3 separate regions of the Homo sapiens genome follow, and regions 1 and 3 are each linked to region 2. Evidence: fine-mapped expression QTL. A gene starts in region 2. Each other region holds a variant in brackets. All regions are shown on one strand. Distances are from middle to middle.

Evidence for each region. PIP is the estimated chance that this variant, and not a neighbour inherited with it, causes the effect. A credible set is the group of variants that fine-mapping cannot tell apart.
Region 1: its variant is the best candidate, but not a certain one, in a credible set for the expression of LINC01366 in tibial artery (GTEx, PIP 0.68).
Region 3: its variant is the best candidate, but not a certain one, in a credible set for the expression of LINC01366 in whole blood (TOPMed, PIP 0.81).

What each region holds. Positions count from the first base shown.
Region 1 is chr5:170,376,042-170,381,267 of GRCh38, reverse strand. It overlaps KCNMB1 (potassium calcium-activated channel subfamily M regulatory beta subunit 1), which reads left to right. Exons shown (of 4, transcript NM_004137.4): 4 at 2,295-5,226. The coding sequence ends at 2,564. It also overlaps a transcript of KCNIP1 not described here. Among named protein-coding and RNA genes, the nearest start is that of KCNMB1, 11 kb to the left of the region's middle. The variant G/A (reference allele first, on the strand shown) is at 2,126.
Region 2 is chr5:170,328,240-170,333,465 of GRCh38, reverse strand. It overlaps LINC01366 (long intergenic non-protein coding RNA 1366), which reads right to left and starts at 2,073. Exons shown (of 2, transcript NR_108025.1): 1 at 1,889-2,073; 2 at 1-332. RefSeq lists enhancers at 1-5, 1-771, 1,837-2,006, 1,571-2,770.
Region 3 is chr5:170,338,924-170,344,149 of GRCh38, reverse strand. No RefSeq gene overlaps it. Among named protein-coding and RNA genes, the nearest start is that of LINC01366, 10 kb to the right of the region's middle. RefSeq lists an enhancer at 4,722-4,931. The variant G/T (reference allele first, on the strand shown) is at 2,917.

The DNA of each region.
Region 1 (5,226 bases), 48 kb before region 2:
ACTCAGGCTTAGCTGGACCCAGGACAGGAGAGAAAGGATGCATTCAGGCCCCGGCTTCTGGGTTTGGCCATGAAGAGTGAATTCCTGCCCAGTGTCTTGCCAAACAGGCCCAGCATAAAAGATCCAGAGGAACCCTGAGCAGGCAGAGGATACACTAGGCCCAGGATGGACAGAAGCCTCTACTTCAGAGCTCATCCATAGACCTCTTTTTAAGAAGGTAAAGAAGGAGCTGTTGTTGCAATTTCATAGATAAGTCAAAACATATTATTATTAATAATAGCATCTTCCACTTTTTTGAGTTCTTATCGTGTGCTGGGCTTCTGTGCTCAGTGCTTTACATGCATCATCTCATTTAATCCCCATGACAGTTCTCCTAGGCAGGTAGCCTCACAAACCCATTTTACAAGGCCCAGTGAGGTTGTGGCAGTTGCCAAGGTCACACAGCTCAGAACTCAGGCCTGTCTGACTCCATAGCCACACTGCTATTTAAGGAGCTAGGTTAGCCAAGGTCACAGTCAGAGGCATTGGAGAGACTCAGGCCAGGCCCCCTCACCGTCAGCTCAGGATGCTGGATTATATGCTACTGAGGACCTGGCAGTGTCCAACAGCTCTGAATGCCAGATTCCTGAGGAGCCAGCGTCTCCCCAGCCTCAGCTACTCCCTGGCTGGCTGGGGCCCTAGATCTGAGTGCAGCATCTGCATTTCCCAGGCTGTGAGAACTACAGTGCAACCCTCCTCTGTGTTGCTGGAGTGAATGCCCTCAGGGCAGGCAGCTTCCAGGGTGGCACCTCATATAAATCCAGGGAGTGGCCGAGGCCTGCAAGGAATCTGGCTCAACACCTGCCATTTGGGTCTCAGTTTTACACATTTTGATCTTGCACATGATTTCACTAGGGCAAAATTAAGTGCATGAAGGAATCACACATTCCTGGGTCTCGCCCTCAGTGATGCAGAGTGGGTAGGGACCTGGGCTATGGGGGCCCTGTAGGTATTCTGCTGCAGATGGGGGCACCACACTTGCAGCTCAGAACAGAGATAAAACCAGATAAAACTCCGCTTTATGACTGCTTTGCATCACTTTCCAGCTGGCCTCATCTGAACAGGGCAGAAAGTTCCTAATAACAATAATCAACGTCAGAATTAAATGTGTGTCATGCTCTGCTGGCACAAAACTCTTTTCAATGCATTCTTTCTTTCCTTTGGATCCCAGTGTCAAATACCCGCTTGCCAACATAGTTTGTTTGCTGTACACAGGTTGAAACTGCAAAGGTTTTCAATTTTAAATTTAGCTAATATTTTACTTTTTTTTTTTTTTTGAAATGGGATCTCGCTTTGTTGCCTTACCTGGAGTGTAGTTGCGAGATCATAGCTCACTGCAGCCTCCAACTCCTGGGCTCAGGTGATCCTCCCACCTCAGTCTCCTGTGTAGCTGGGACTACAGGTACACCACCATGCCCACCTGGATAATTTTTAACTTTTTTTGTAGAGATAAAGTCTTGCTATGTTGCCTAGGCTAGTCTCGAACTCCTGGGCTCAAGGGATCCTTCCCCTTCGGCTTCCCAAAGTGTTAGGATTACAGGTGTGATCTGGTTTCTAACTTCTCTTAAAGTGTTGGAGGTCTGGCTATTATAGATCTTCTGGATGGCCTGACATCCATTGCCTGGAGGGAGTGGTGACTGCCTGTCTGGAGGCAGCTGGCTCTCTCCCTATTGACAGGCCCTGCCACACCCTGGCAATTCTTCCTGGCACCAAGGCAAGAGTCAGTGGGCACCTGTCATCTCATTGCTTTGCCTGCTTCACCCTCTGACAATACCTTCATGAGCCCTGTAGGCAATTGAGCACATGATCTCGATTTCAAATACACAGCCCACTTGGCCTGTGTCCCTCCCTGGTTTCCTTAGATAGCTCTGTGTGAAGTCCTTCTTTCATAATATCCTTTGAAACCGATATTCACCCATTTAAGTGATGAAGCTTCAGGGCTCAGAAAGAGTGAGAAATTTGCCAAAAATTCTACAGCCAATCCAAGCAGAGCCAGGACTCCAAGGTAGGACCTGCGCCCAGGTGTGTAGCCTGTACCCCGAGCAGCTCCAGCACCGCCATCCACACACAAGACACAAATGAGAGC[G/A]TGCTCTCCAGACCTGTACAGCGCATGGCCTGCCAAGCTTTAGACCAAAGCCCCGACTCCAATCCAGGGGCCCGACTACAAAGCTGGTATTTTTCTTTACTCCATATCAAGCCCTTGGCTAAGAAATGGGGATTTCCAAGCCCACAGCTGCTCTTGTTTCTCCCCACAGTGCTCCTACATCCCAGGCAGCGTGGACAATTACCAGACGGCCCGGGCCGACGTGGAGAAGGTCAGAGCCAAATTCCAAGAGCAGCAGGTCTTCTACTGCTTCTCCGCACCTCGGGGGAACGAAACCAGCGTCCTATTCCAGCGCCTCTACGGGCCCCAGGCCCTCCTCTTCTCCCTCTTCTGGCCCACCTTCCTGCTGACCGGTGGCCTCCTCATTATCGCCATGGTGAAGAGCAACCAGTACCTGTCCATCCTGGCGGCCCAGAAGTAGAGCCATCCATCCATGCCATACCACTTGTCAGGGCACAGGGGACTGGCTGGGCCCCCAGGGCTGCTCCCCACTTGCAGCACAATGCCTTCTCCACCTGCCCTCCCACTCTTCCAGTCCAATCCACGCTGTCTTCTGTTGCAGGACTAACCTTTGAGAAATCCTTTTGTGAAGTCATTGCCTGCTCAAGAATGTACAGTGGCTCCCCAATGCCTTGGAGGCCATAAGGCCAGCCAGTTCTAGCTCTCTATTACCTGTCCCCACTCAACTGACTCATACCTGTTTCCGGCTGCATCACTATGTGCCCCACAGAGAACGATGATCGTCACCTCTGTGCCTGAGTTCTCCCTGTTGTCTCAAAGCGGTACCCATCCTCCCCCAGAAGCTGTCCCCAGCGAGCCTCCCTTCTTTGTTTGAATTCTCTAATAAGAGCAACAGCAGCTCCCATTTCTAGAACACATTTACAGTATTACTATTTTCTAGGATATAAAGTGCCATATATATTTTTAATTCCAATATTAATAAATGTATGCCAAACAACAATCAGCTGCAAGGAAACACATGAGAACTCATCAAAATTTTAGCGGTGGGATGGTGGTTAATTTCTGTTTTCTTCCTTATCCCCTTTTTATTTTTGCTGCTTTTCTAAATTTTTGATTATAGGAAGGGTGTGTTTCGTTTGCTTTTAATCAGAAAAGCCATGGTAGATGCCATTTTGGAAAAGTTGAAAGAGTGTGTCCCCCTCACAGAAAAAGATGGAAGTGGGTCTGGGGACGGAGTTGGGTTCCAGTCAGAGACAGGCCATTCAGAACACACAATCTTAAAAACCCCTCTGGGCCGGGCGCGGTGGCTCACTCCTGTAATCCCAGCACTTTGGGAGGCCGAGGCTGGTGGATCACGAGGTCAGGAGATCAAGACCATCCTGGCTAACATGGTGAAACCCCGTCTCTACTAAAAATACAAAAAATTAGCCAGGCGTGGTGGTGGGCACCTGTGGTCCCAGCTACTCAGGAGGCTGAGGCAGGAGAATGGCGTGAACCCGGGGTTCGGAGCTTGCAGTGAGCCGAGATTGTGCCACTGCACTCCAGCCTGGTGATAGAACAAGACTCCGTCTCAAAAAAAAAACAAAAAACAAAAAATGAAAAACAACCCTCTGGAGGAAAGGTCATGATATAGAGGAGGATTTGTTATTTAAATTGAGGGTATGGACTCTGGCACTGAGCCTGCTGGGGAAGCCTATCTCAGATTTGAAAAGGGCAAAATGGGAAGAAGCCATCACCTTTACCATTCCCACTCCAGGAAGTTTTCCTAGAACGATGACTGTCCAAGTGTGGTCCCTGGGCCAGCAGCATCAGGATCCTGTGGCAGCTTGTGAGAAATGCACACTCTCAGGCCCCTGTCCCAGCCCCACCACGCCAGAAGCCCTGCACGGGGTGGGGGTAGCAATGTTCTGTGTTCTAACAATGCGTAGGGGATTCTGTGGCACACCTCGAGCCAGAGAACTACCGGTGTAGGAAGTGAGCGTCCTGTCGCGAGGATTTTCAGAGCAGGTGAGTGACCATTCGGCAGGGCCAGTCCTGAGCTGGGTGTGAAGTTAGGCTGGTGTCTGAAGTTTCTTCCAGTGTTGTGAGTCCAAGATGCAGATCTTGGGTTTGAATCCTGTCTCTACTCTGCCCGATTTCATCTCTTTGATTCTTAGTTTTTTCATCTATAAAAGAAGGACTCTTTCTGGATAGTTGGGAGGGCTGAAGGAATGTTTGACACATCATAGGTGTTTAAAATGGCAACTATAGTTTTTTTTGTTTGTTTTGTGTGTGTGTTTTTTTCTTAACTTTCATTTTAAGTTGCAGGGTACACGTTCAGGTTTGTTACATAGGTACACTTGTGTCAAGGGAGTTTGTTGTGCAGATTATTTCATCACCCAGGTATTAAGTCTAGTACCCATTATTAAAGAAAATGTGGTACGTATACGTCATGGAATATTATGCAGCCATAAAAAGGAAGGAGATCATGTCCTTTGCAGGGACATGGATGGAGCTGGAGGCCAAATATTATCCTTAGCAAACTAACACAGGGACACAAAACTAAATACTGTATATTCTCACTTATAAGTGGGAGCTAAATGATGAAAACACATGGACACAAAGAGGGGAACAACACACACTGAGGCCTATTGGAGGGCGGGAGGTAGGAGGAGGGAGAGGATCAGGGAAAAAGAGCTATTGTTAGTAACAAGAAAAAGTCGGCCGGGCGTGGTGGCTCACACCTGTAATCCCAGCACTTTGGGAGGCCGAGGTGGGCAGATCACGAGGTCAGGAGATCGAGACCATCCTGGCTAACACGGTGAAACCCTGTCTCTACTAAAAAATAGAAAAAATCATAGCCGGGCGTGGTGGTAGCCGCCTGTAGTCCCAGCTGCTCAGGAGGCTGAGGCAGAAGAATGGCGTGAACCCGGGAGGCGGAGCTTGCAGTGAGCCGAGATCGCGCCACGGCACTCCAGCCTGGGTAACAGAGCAAGACTCTGTCTCAAAAAAAAAAAAAAAAAAAAAAAAAAAAGAATAAGTCATGAATACTCAGAAACTTCCAGAAGTTATACTGACAATGTTATCTGGCATGTATGGGTGCTTATTTATTCTGTGCCAGGCACTGTACTAATTAGTTTGCC
Region 2 (5,226 bases):
CTTTTCTAATAAACCATCTACTAAGAATATCCGTTAGTCATGTTCTCTTTTCTCCTGAAAGTCAGGCGTGGGTGTCTGCCTAATGTCCGGGTCCAGTACAGTGTCTTCTGTGTGCTGAAAGACAGTCGGAGTTTCTCTTCTTCCTGTGGTTTTGTGGGCAGTGTCGTTTTGTGCCAACCTGCTGTCTGGGACTGATGAGCGCTCACCCAGCCACCCTGAGACTTGGTGGTGGACAGATGCACCCTGCTTCCTGAGATAGGTGCTGGGACCCACAGGGTGTTGAACAGATCCCTCTGGTCATGAAAATGGCCCTCTGGCAGCCTCTCAGTGACCTGTGTAAACCAAAAATAAAATTCTAAGTCCCCCAACCATCTGAATGGACCCCTCGCCTCGGCCAATAGCCTTCCAAAGTTAACCTGAAAAACTAGTGCAAACCGTGGTGGGAAGGGAGGGTCGAACGTGCCTCATTATTTCCTGCTCCCTTTTGGAACTCAGGCACAACTGACCAGCATTAACATTAAAACAGACCTTAGGATTGACAAAGCTGATTCTTTGTAGCAATAAGACACCAAATTCCAGCCTGGCTGTAGTATAGCATCACATGACAGAGAGCAGGCCCTGAAAAAAAAAAATCAAAGTATTTTGCCCCAAGTTATGTTTATTTGCTGTATCTCAAAATAGTCCTGCAAAGCTGTCTCTTGTGGGGAAAATCTATATTTCGAAGAGAATCCCCTTCCTTTTCGTGCTCCAGGAGAGAATTAATTCTGATAAGAAACATTTACAACCTATTCTCTCTGAAGCCTGCTACCTGGGGCTTCCTCTGCATAATGGGAACCCTGGTCTCCACAACCTCTCATCTTAACCCAGACATTCTCTTCTGTTGATTCTAGGTCTTTAGATGATAATACAACTTTTTCAACCAATTGTCAATCAGAAAATCTTTGAATGTATCTATGACTTGAAGCCTCTGCTTTGAGTTGTCCTGCCTTCCCGGACCAAACCAACGTACATTTTCTATGTATTGATTTATTTCTTGTATCTCCCTAATATATATAAAACCAAACTGTAACCTGACCACCTTGGGCAGGATCTCCTGAGGTCTGTGTCACGGGCTATTGGTCACTCATATTTGGCTCAGAATAAATCTCCAAGTATTTTATAGAGTTTGACTGTTTTTGTAGACACCTGGGACAGGAACTCTTGGCAGAGCAGACCCCTGGAGGCAGCACCCCTGCTGCTGTGCCTGCTTTCAAAACCCCATGGCTCGTCCTTCGTCCCCTCCTCTCTGTCTCTCTGTGACTTGAAGAAGGATGAAAGGCGGCCTGCAGGTGGACCACAAAAGTGGGAAGCATCATTCCCACCCAAGAAAGGAAAGAGAACAGAAGACGCCTGATCAGAGCCTTCCTGAGGTCTCATCTCCCCTATCTCCGGGGAGCTGAGAACCACCCCCAAGGATTTGGTGGGTCCCCTCCCCAACAGGCCCCTCCACCTCTGGTGAAAGAGCTCTGCCCACTTCTCTGCTTAGTCTGAGCTGATAGGAGGGAAAAGGAGAGCACTGTATGAGTCACAGGTCTCATTACCTCCCCTCATAGCCCAGGGGAAGGGGAGATGGCAGAGGCGGGTAGCAGGCAGGGCTGGGGATGTGCCATGGGGTTCCCCTGGCTTCTCCCCACAGAGGCTGAACCTCCTGGGGGAACATTTGAAAGCCTCAGAGACCAGCTATGGTGCCAAATACTAATGGCCTCAGTTTCCCTTCCTATCCCCCACCTTTGCACGAGTGTGAGTACTCACCCCCCGTCAACTATGTGACCTTGGGAAGACCCCTCTGAAAGACCTCACACCATTCATGTTAGTCCTCCTTCCCCACCTCCCCACACCATCCACACACCACATGCATCAAGCCCCACCGACTTCAGTCCTCAGCATCCTCGCCCCTCAAGAGGGCTGAGAAAAGGAACCATGCTCTTCACGAGCCACCATACAGACGTGGGAATTCCCCTGAAGGTCAGAACCACAGCTCCTTCTCAGCAACTCCTTCTGGCCCCAGGAGTGGGAGGTCTCATGGTCCCAAACAAAACGGAATTGCCTGTGACTCATACCCAGCCCTGCCTATTGAGAAATCTACTTCCGGTGTTGGGGGTGTGGGGTGGTGCGGAACTGGAGCCAGGAAGGGGTGTGTTTGTGTGTGTGTGTGTGTGTGTGTGTGTGTGTGTGTGTGTTCCTCAGCTTCCTGGCTACTGAGTCTTCTCAAGACCAGAGCTCCCTGGCTTTTCAGAAAACCAGCTCTCAAATCATCTAGATCATCTATCCCCCTTACTAGGTAGTCCAGTGTGGCCCAAAGCCTATTTGGACTTTTTTTTTCTTAAAGGAGAAGAAAAAAAGAACCAAGTGAAAACAGAAAATAATTCAGCCACGTGAAGCTGAATTATTATAGCTGCCCCATGTGAGTCGGGAAAGAGAAGGGTGCTTCCTAAAACATGTTAGACAAGGCACTCTGCGGCTTAGTCCCATCCTCCACGCCCCGAAGTCTGCAGCTCTCTCATCATCTTTGCTGCTTGAGTTTTGAGAGGGGCCCAGTGTGCCTTCTGCAAAGCCTGTGCCACTTGCTTCGAAATGTGGCTGTCTCTGGAGGGTTCTCACGAGTCCCACGCTGGATCCTGAGGGCACAGAACTGAAGCTGTTTCAGTTTTTGGTTTGCATGTTGTTGTTACTGTCGCAAAAGGGAAATATCAACTTGGATATTAACAAAATGGAGAACTGAGACCCACCCTGCGATTTTTGCCATTTTCTCATTTTGGTAGAACAAGAGCAAAGAACAAAGGCGCCTTCTAATGGCATAACCTAACTTTTAAGGTAACAGCATCATTATATGTTTAAAGCAAGAAAAGAAGAGGAAATAATGTTTGTCAAAATCTATCATGTGTCAGACATTTTACCGAACTTTCTCCCCTAAGCCCAATGACATAGGTACTTGTGTCCCCATTCCATGATGGGGAAATGGGGGCTAAGAAAGGTGCGGTGACTTGGTTAAGGTCATACGTGTAGAGATGAATGCTAGAGAAAGGATTCAAAATCAGGTCTGGCTGTTGCTGAGTTTCCTGTATTTTCCAAGTTCTTACACTTTCCCTAACTTCCCTGCCTTCATCTCTGTCCTCTCCTCTGCTTACTCTGTTCTTTTCTGTTCCTCAAACACACAAAGCTCATTCCCACATCAGGACTTTCTGTCTCTCTTTGTTTGGCTGCTTCCTTTCTTATCATTTGGGACTCATCACAAAGGCCACCTTCTTGTAAGGTGACCTGACCATTCCTTTTAAAGTAGTACCCTCTGGGATATTGCTCTGTTAATTTACTTTACAGTACTTCTCACTCACCTACTTTGTTTATTTCCGTAGTCTGTGACCCCCTACCCACCCCTCACTGACCCTGCAACAGACACTAGAATGTAGGGCTAGTGAGAGCAGAGGCCTCTTCTTTCTTGTTCTTCTCTATATCCAAAGAGTCTGGAGAAATGGCTGGGACATTGAGGACATTCAGAAATATTTGTTGGATGGATAGGTGGGTGGGTAGATGGATGGATAAACAGGTGGGTGAGTAGACGGATGAGTGAGTGGGTAGATGGACAGGTGGATGGGTAGATGGATGAGTAGATGGATGGATGGACGGATGGGTAGGTAAATGAATAAAATGGTAGATGGATGGACAGGTGGGTGGGTAGATGGATGAGTAGATGGTTAAATGGACAAGTGGGTAGGTAGATGGATGAAAGAGTAGATGGATGGTTGGATGGGTGAGTAGGTAGATGGATTAGTGAGTAGATAGATGAATGGATGGATGGGTAGATGGATGGATGGATGAAGATGAATGAGTTGGTGAATGTACGTATGTATGAATGTATGGTGTCTACTATATGGCAGGTTCCAGTGAGGATGTAGAGATGAATAAAATGATGTCTCTTTGATCCAAATGTTTGCTTTGAAATGAGGGAGACCTTCTCAATAGTCAAGTAGTTGCATCAAAGTATATTAGGTGTTCTGAGGGAATATCAGATCTCAAAAGCACATTTGGGATAGAAATGAGGAAGGGATCCATTTTTGCTGCTGGAGGGTGATCAGAAAATGCTCTATATGGGAGATAACACTGTATCTGATCCACGAAGGATAAGTGGTTATTATTCAGGTAATCAATGAATTTAAAAGCTTCCCTGCAGCCTAGGAAAAGGGAAAGAAGCTGAACACAGTCTTAGAGTCTAAAAACTGCAAGCTATTTGGTGTGATGGGACAAGAGGTGTGAAAGATCTGGTCTTGATTGCTACTGCATATTCAGTGTTTAGCATTCAATTACCCTACTATTGGCACTTCATAATAGTACTCAAGAATAGGTCCTCAATAATTATTTGTTGAAGAAAGGAACAAAAGGAGAGCACAGGGAAAAGTAAAGCTGGCAAGATTGACCTGTGCTGGGTACTGCTGGGCTAAGGAATGTAGATGCTAGTCAGAGGAAAATGGACCATCACAGAAGGGTTGATGAGATGCATGTTTCTGATGGTCACCCTGCTAAGCACAGGAACTGTGTTGGGGAAAGTCCAGGAAGTGGCAGGAATAGACAGAGTGGACTATGGCTATGGTCCGAGTGTGGGATGTTGAGGACCTGAGCTAATCAGGATAGTGTACGTGAAAAGGTAAAGAGGGATTCTAGAGACTTGAGGAAGGTAGAACTAGAGTGCTATCCATGGTTCCATATGGATGAAGAAGGGAAGAGGGAGGGAATATAAAGAGAAGAATTTTCCATGCCCCTGCTGGAATGACTAGATGCTAGCCACTGGAATACAAAATGTATGGGGTGGGGTTCACCATGAAGCTAATGAAGGTTATGTGCGAGAATCCCTCCCTTTCACATCCACTATCAAGGTCCTAAACCTACTCTTGTATTCATTGTTTTCTTTTTATTTATTTTTTCCTAAAGAGCCCCTTCCTGGCCAATTATAGAATCCTCAGGCTCCACCAAGCCTGGATCTTCCCCTGGAAATACAAGGAGAACAGTTTGGGGGAAAGGATTCCATTTGGATTGTGAATTCCATTTGGGGCATGGTAGGTTAGAGGTGGATGAAAAACCTTGAGGTGGAGATGTTCTGCAAGGAGCACAGTGTGGGACAGGGCTTGAATCCTGGCTTCATGCTGTGTGGACATGGGCAAGTTGTTTGAGCTCTGTGCTCAGTAAAATGGGATG
Region 3 (5,226 bases), 11 kb before region 2:
CAGAAGAGATTGGCTGAGAAGTACCTTTTCATGGTCTGAATAAGAAACGTTTGTCATCTATTGCGTTTGGGGCAGCCGCCAATGAGACTTCATCTACATAATAAGAACCTTGGTCTCTATAACCCCTTATCTTAACCCAGACACTCATTTCTATCGATTCCAAGTCTTTGGATAACAACTTAACTCTCAACCAATTGCCAACCAGAAAATCTTTGAATCCACCCATGACCTAAAAGCCACTCCCCACCTCTGAAGTTGTCCCGCCTTTCTGGACCCAACCAATGTATGCCTCACATGTATTGACTGATGTCTTCAGTCTCCCTCAAACATGTAAAACCAAGATGTAACCCAGCCACCTCGGGCACATGTTCTCAGGACCTCTTGAGGCTGTGTCATGGGTTATGGTCCATAAGTTTGGCAAAATAAGCTTCTGAATTGACTGACCCCTGTCTCAGATACTTTTTGTTTTACAAAGGAAAGAATGCCCACCTCCTCATTGTCGGACAGTTGGCCCGTCCCTCTCTTCAGGAAAGTAGGCTCTCTCCTGCCTCCTGTGTACTTTGGGCTCCAGATGTTCCAGTAGCCACACTCTGTTAAACAAATCCACCTGAATATGCTTGAAATCTGGGTCTGTTCAGGACCTCACCTAGTTTAGAGCAATACTGAACCTGGATAATAAGGGTTTTGGAGCCTATAGGAGTAGAATTCAAAGCGTGCTTTGAGGTATGAATCACGATGGTTGCCTTGATAAACAACAGCCATCAGAGGACACAGAAAGGTAAAGAGGGCTTAGAAAAGAGGAGAGGGAGGCTGGCCTCAAGTTATTGCAAACAGCCATAGGGATTTTAGGAATACGCAGGTCTAATATTTGACTTGAAGTTGTTTGTGTAACCATTCTTTAGCTATGTGCACATAACCCAGTTATTCCAACCCATTAAGTCTTTATTTCCTTATCTTTAAAATGCAGCTAAGACCCCCTACCTAGTGGAACTGATGCCTGCATTGAACAGGGGGGTGACCAACTGCCCTGGTTTTCTCAGGACTAAGGGGTTTCCAGGGACACAAGATATTTTGTGCTAAACAGAGATAATCCATAGCACAGAAAAGCCCTTGAACAGAGCACCAGACTCTCCTAACAACAATAATAATGCCAGTGGAGAGCCTGCATTATTTTAACCAAAGCTCTATACTGCTTTCAGATTTGTGGTCACTTGCATTTTACATTTTACAACATACATTGTCACAAATGACCCCCAATCCTTTGTGGCACTAAGGTCTGGTGACAGAAACAGTAAAGGGGTAATTAGTTACAGGTATCCAGTCCCTTTGGCTTTTATGTTTCCTTCCCCTGTCCCCCCACCCATCTGGGTCTTGTCCCCAGAGATCCATTGATGGAGAATATAAGAGCTGCCCTGCTGTTCACAGTCAGACAATGGACCATCTCCTAACACCCTCAAGGCAAGCCACCAAGAAAGGGTGAAGAAAGGCCTCATGATGAGGTCAAACCACAGGTAGCTCTGGGCCTATGTCAGAGCAATCCCTCCAGAAATTCATCCAGAGCCGGTGAAGGAGGGAACTTGGAGAGGAAGTATATCGGTTAAGTAAGAGTCCCTTTAAATATTCATCTCCATTTTGGTAATTACATCACTGCCTGGATGGGCTGGCAGAGTCCTGGGCGGCTAATGAGCTGACTGGAGACGATGGCAAGTTTGCCCTGGGTCCCAGAGTGGGGTCCCTGAGTAGGCACTGTTTCCCACACTCTGGTGTAATGCTCACTGCAGATCCGAGAAAACCACCCTTGTCATTGTGCCCAGGGCCTCAGATGACGAAATCAACTCAATTCTTAGTGGAATTCCAGCCCAGTGCCAAGCTGGAGCGTTCTGGGAAGGGCAAGAGGCAAGAGGCACTCCAGATGAGAATCCAGGCTTTGGGGTGACTTTACTTCATTTTTCTCCATCTGGCCTGCAAGCTTGCTCACGACAGAGAAGGCTTCTCTTGCTCCTTTTATGCACATGCCTGCTGCACCACCCCTGTCCAGGTTATCTCCCTGCCTGAAGAATGCCAATATCCTTCACTTTTGTATCATCCTCACATTCCTGTGAGCAAAGGAAAGGCAGGCCCCTTCACCTGTACAAGCCTCAATTTCTTTGTCTGTGATATGGTTGGAAAAAGAGCTTCCAGGTTGTATATATCCAGGTGAAGTGTAAATGAAGTAATGTACGGTCTCCCACCATATAATGACATTTCAGTCAACACTTGACCTCATATCCGAAGGTGGTGCAATAAGACTATACTACTGTATTTTCACTCTACCTTCTCTATGTTTGGCTGTGTTTAGATAGACGAATACTCACCGTTGTGTTACAGCCATCTGCAGTATTCAGGACAGTCCCATGCTGTGCAGGTTTGTAGCGCAGGAGCAACAGGCTGTACCAGAGAGCCCAGGTGTGTTGTCGAATATGCCATCTAGGTGTGCATACGTGCACTCTGTGATGTTCACACAACAGTGGATTCACCTAAGGACACATTTCTGAGAACGCATCCCTGCTGTTAAGTGATGCATGACTGTATGAGAATTTCATTCCTAATCGTAAATTGTTGCATGGGCATGCAGTGGCATACTGAGTGAGAGGCGGTGCCTTGTGGTGGTGAAGAGCCCAGTTTCCATACCTTCCAGCTATGTGATTTTACACAAACTGAACCTCATAAGCCTCAGTTTCCCCATCTGTAAAATGGGAATACTAAAGTTACCTACATCATATGATGTAGTTAATGAGAAATGTGTGTAAGGACCCACCATGTAATAAGGGCTTGGACCATGGTAGCTGTCATTATTGTCACTATTGTCATAAAGATGATCATGAATCCTACTAGAGGCATGAAGGAACACAGACCCGTGACAATCCCCTCCAAGGG[G/T]TTATATCCCAGAATCACCAGGAGTCTGGCATTCTTGCCCACAGCTCTACTCCCAAGATCCTCGTATCTCTGTCCCTGGAAGTGAGTCTGGGAGTTGGATGTCCTTGGACTACAGAGCTTCCCTGCAGGAGGGCAGAGGACTGGACACAAGTGGACTTGAGGAGTTCCCAGGCTCCTTTGCATCTGTGGCTTCAGCTCAGGTTGGGAAGGGTATGGGTTGTGTGTCTCCAAAGCGTCAATAAAGGACTTAATCACAGGACAAACCTCTATTAAGATCCTGCCATGTCAGTGGAAAAATGCTTGAGCTTGGCTCCATGCCTTCCATCAGGGAGCTCAGGCCTTCAAAATGGCTGCGAGGGGCCGGGTGTGGTGGCTCACGCCTGTAATCCTAGCACTTTGGGAGGCAGAGGCGGATGGATCACCTGAGGTCAAGAGTTTGAGACTAGCCTGGCCAACATGGTGAAACCCTGTCTCTACTAAAAATACAAAAATTAGCCGGGCATGGTGGTGGGTGCCTGTAATCCCAGTTACTTGGGAAGCTGAGGCAGGAGAATCACTTGAACCCAGGAGGCAGAGGTGGCAGTGAGCCGCGATCGTGCTACTGTACTCCAGCCTAAGCAACAGAGCAAAAACTCTGTCTCAAAACAACAACAACAAAATGGCTGGGAGGTAGAACAATGAGAGGCATTGGAGCCCCTCTCTAAAGCCCCCCACGGGACCCTCTGCAGTGGTGTCTGTCCCTTCCAGTTCTCGCTCTTTCCTGTCTCTTACCCATATGGATGGAAGGTCCGGAGATAAACAAAAATGTTGTCAGGACAAAGAAATTACTATCTCAACAGCTGGCACCTGCCTTCCTCTTCTGGAAGGAATTTTGTTTGTTGAGGGATGGATCATGCTGGTCACCTTGATAAACAACAGCTGTCGGAGGACACAGAAAGATGAAGAGGGCTTAGAAAGAGGAGAGGGAGGCTGGCCTCCAGTTATTGAAAAGAGCCAAAGGGCTTTTTAGCAATTTGCAGGTCTATTATTTGACTTGAAGTTGTTTGTGTGGCTACGAAGCAACCCCCTTTGTCTCCTCAGACCTCCTGTGAAGTCAGTTACACACAAGGGACTGGTCAGGTTTTTAAAAGTGAAAATTCAGAAGAGAGATTGAATGAAAATTCAGATGCTTTTGATGCAGAATGGACCAATACACAAAGGAAGCCAGTCAGCTAAACTGGCCTAGTTTAGGGAAGCAGGCACTCAGGGCTCCAGGTGACTGGGGAAACCCTACCCTACACATACTACCACCTGCCTTAACACACACACACACACACACACCCACACACACATACACCTATACAATAGCAGATAAATCAGCAAAAGAAGGGGTCCACTATTTGGTGTGAGGACATTCTGGCAAAATCCACTTGAGTTTTATAGGATAAGGCATCTTAGCTGACTTCCGGATTTTAAAAATAATAGATACTAACATCAACTTGCACACTATACTGTCCAAAGTGCTTTCCCATATTTTCCTCCCTTTTAATCCCAGCAATTTTAGTTTCCATTTTCCGACAAGGAGACTGCAGCCCTGAGAAGTCACACTGCTCACTCACAGTGACACAGGCCAGGGTCTGCTCCCCACTGCTGTGGGCATCTTTGCTGACTCAGCAGAGCTCAAGCATCTGGTTGCAATAGTTTTCTGATCTTTAGGATGCTAAATAGCTCCAAAAATACTTTAGGGTGATTTCCAGGAGGCTAAGCTAAGTCTGAAAATGGGGCTCCATCTCTGTCATGACCTACCCCTCACCCCCAACCAGGGCAGGAGCTGGGACAAACCCAACCCAAGGCCCAGCAAGGGGAGCAGAGTGTGTGCTTGGTCTGGCAGAGAAAGGATGGGAAGGAGGCTACCTCCAGCAGGGAGGTCTGCGGGGGATCACATGCGCCCAGACCCCAGAGATCTGCATGTGTACAGATGGGGGAATTTTGGGTTCAGAGCCAAGGACCTCAGAAGAGTGAGCATTTCAAAAGATCTCTGCTGGGGAGCCGGGACTGCCCTTGGGACCCACAGAAATGGACTATTTTTGACCAGGACTCACTCAATGCCACTTCCTCTTTCTTGATGGGGAGAAAGTCCTGCAGAGGTCACCCTGTGCCTAGGTTGGAGGTGTTTTCTGTGCTGCCCCCACTGCCTCACTAGAGGGAGCTCAAGCTCCCACTTCTACCATCAGCCCACCTGGCCAGGTGAGGTTTCCCTTCTGCCCCAGAGAGGATGTGGGTCAGGGGGCTTGGCAGAGGCAGCTCTCCCTCCCAGTGATGGGAGGTCTC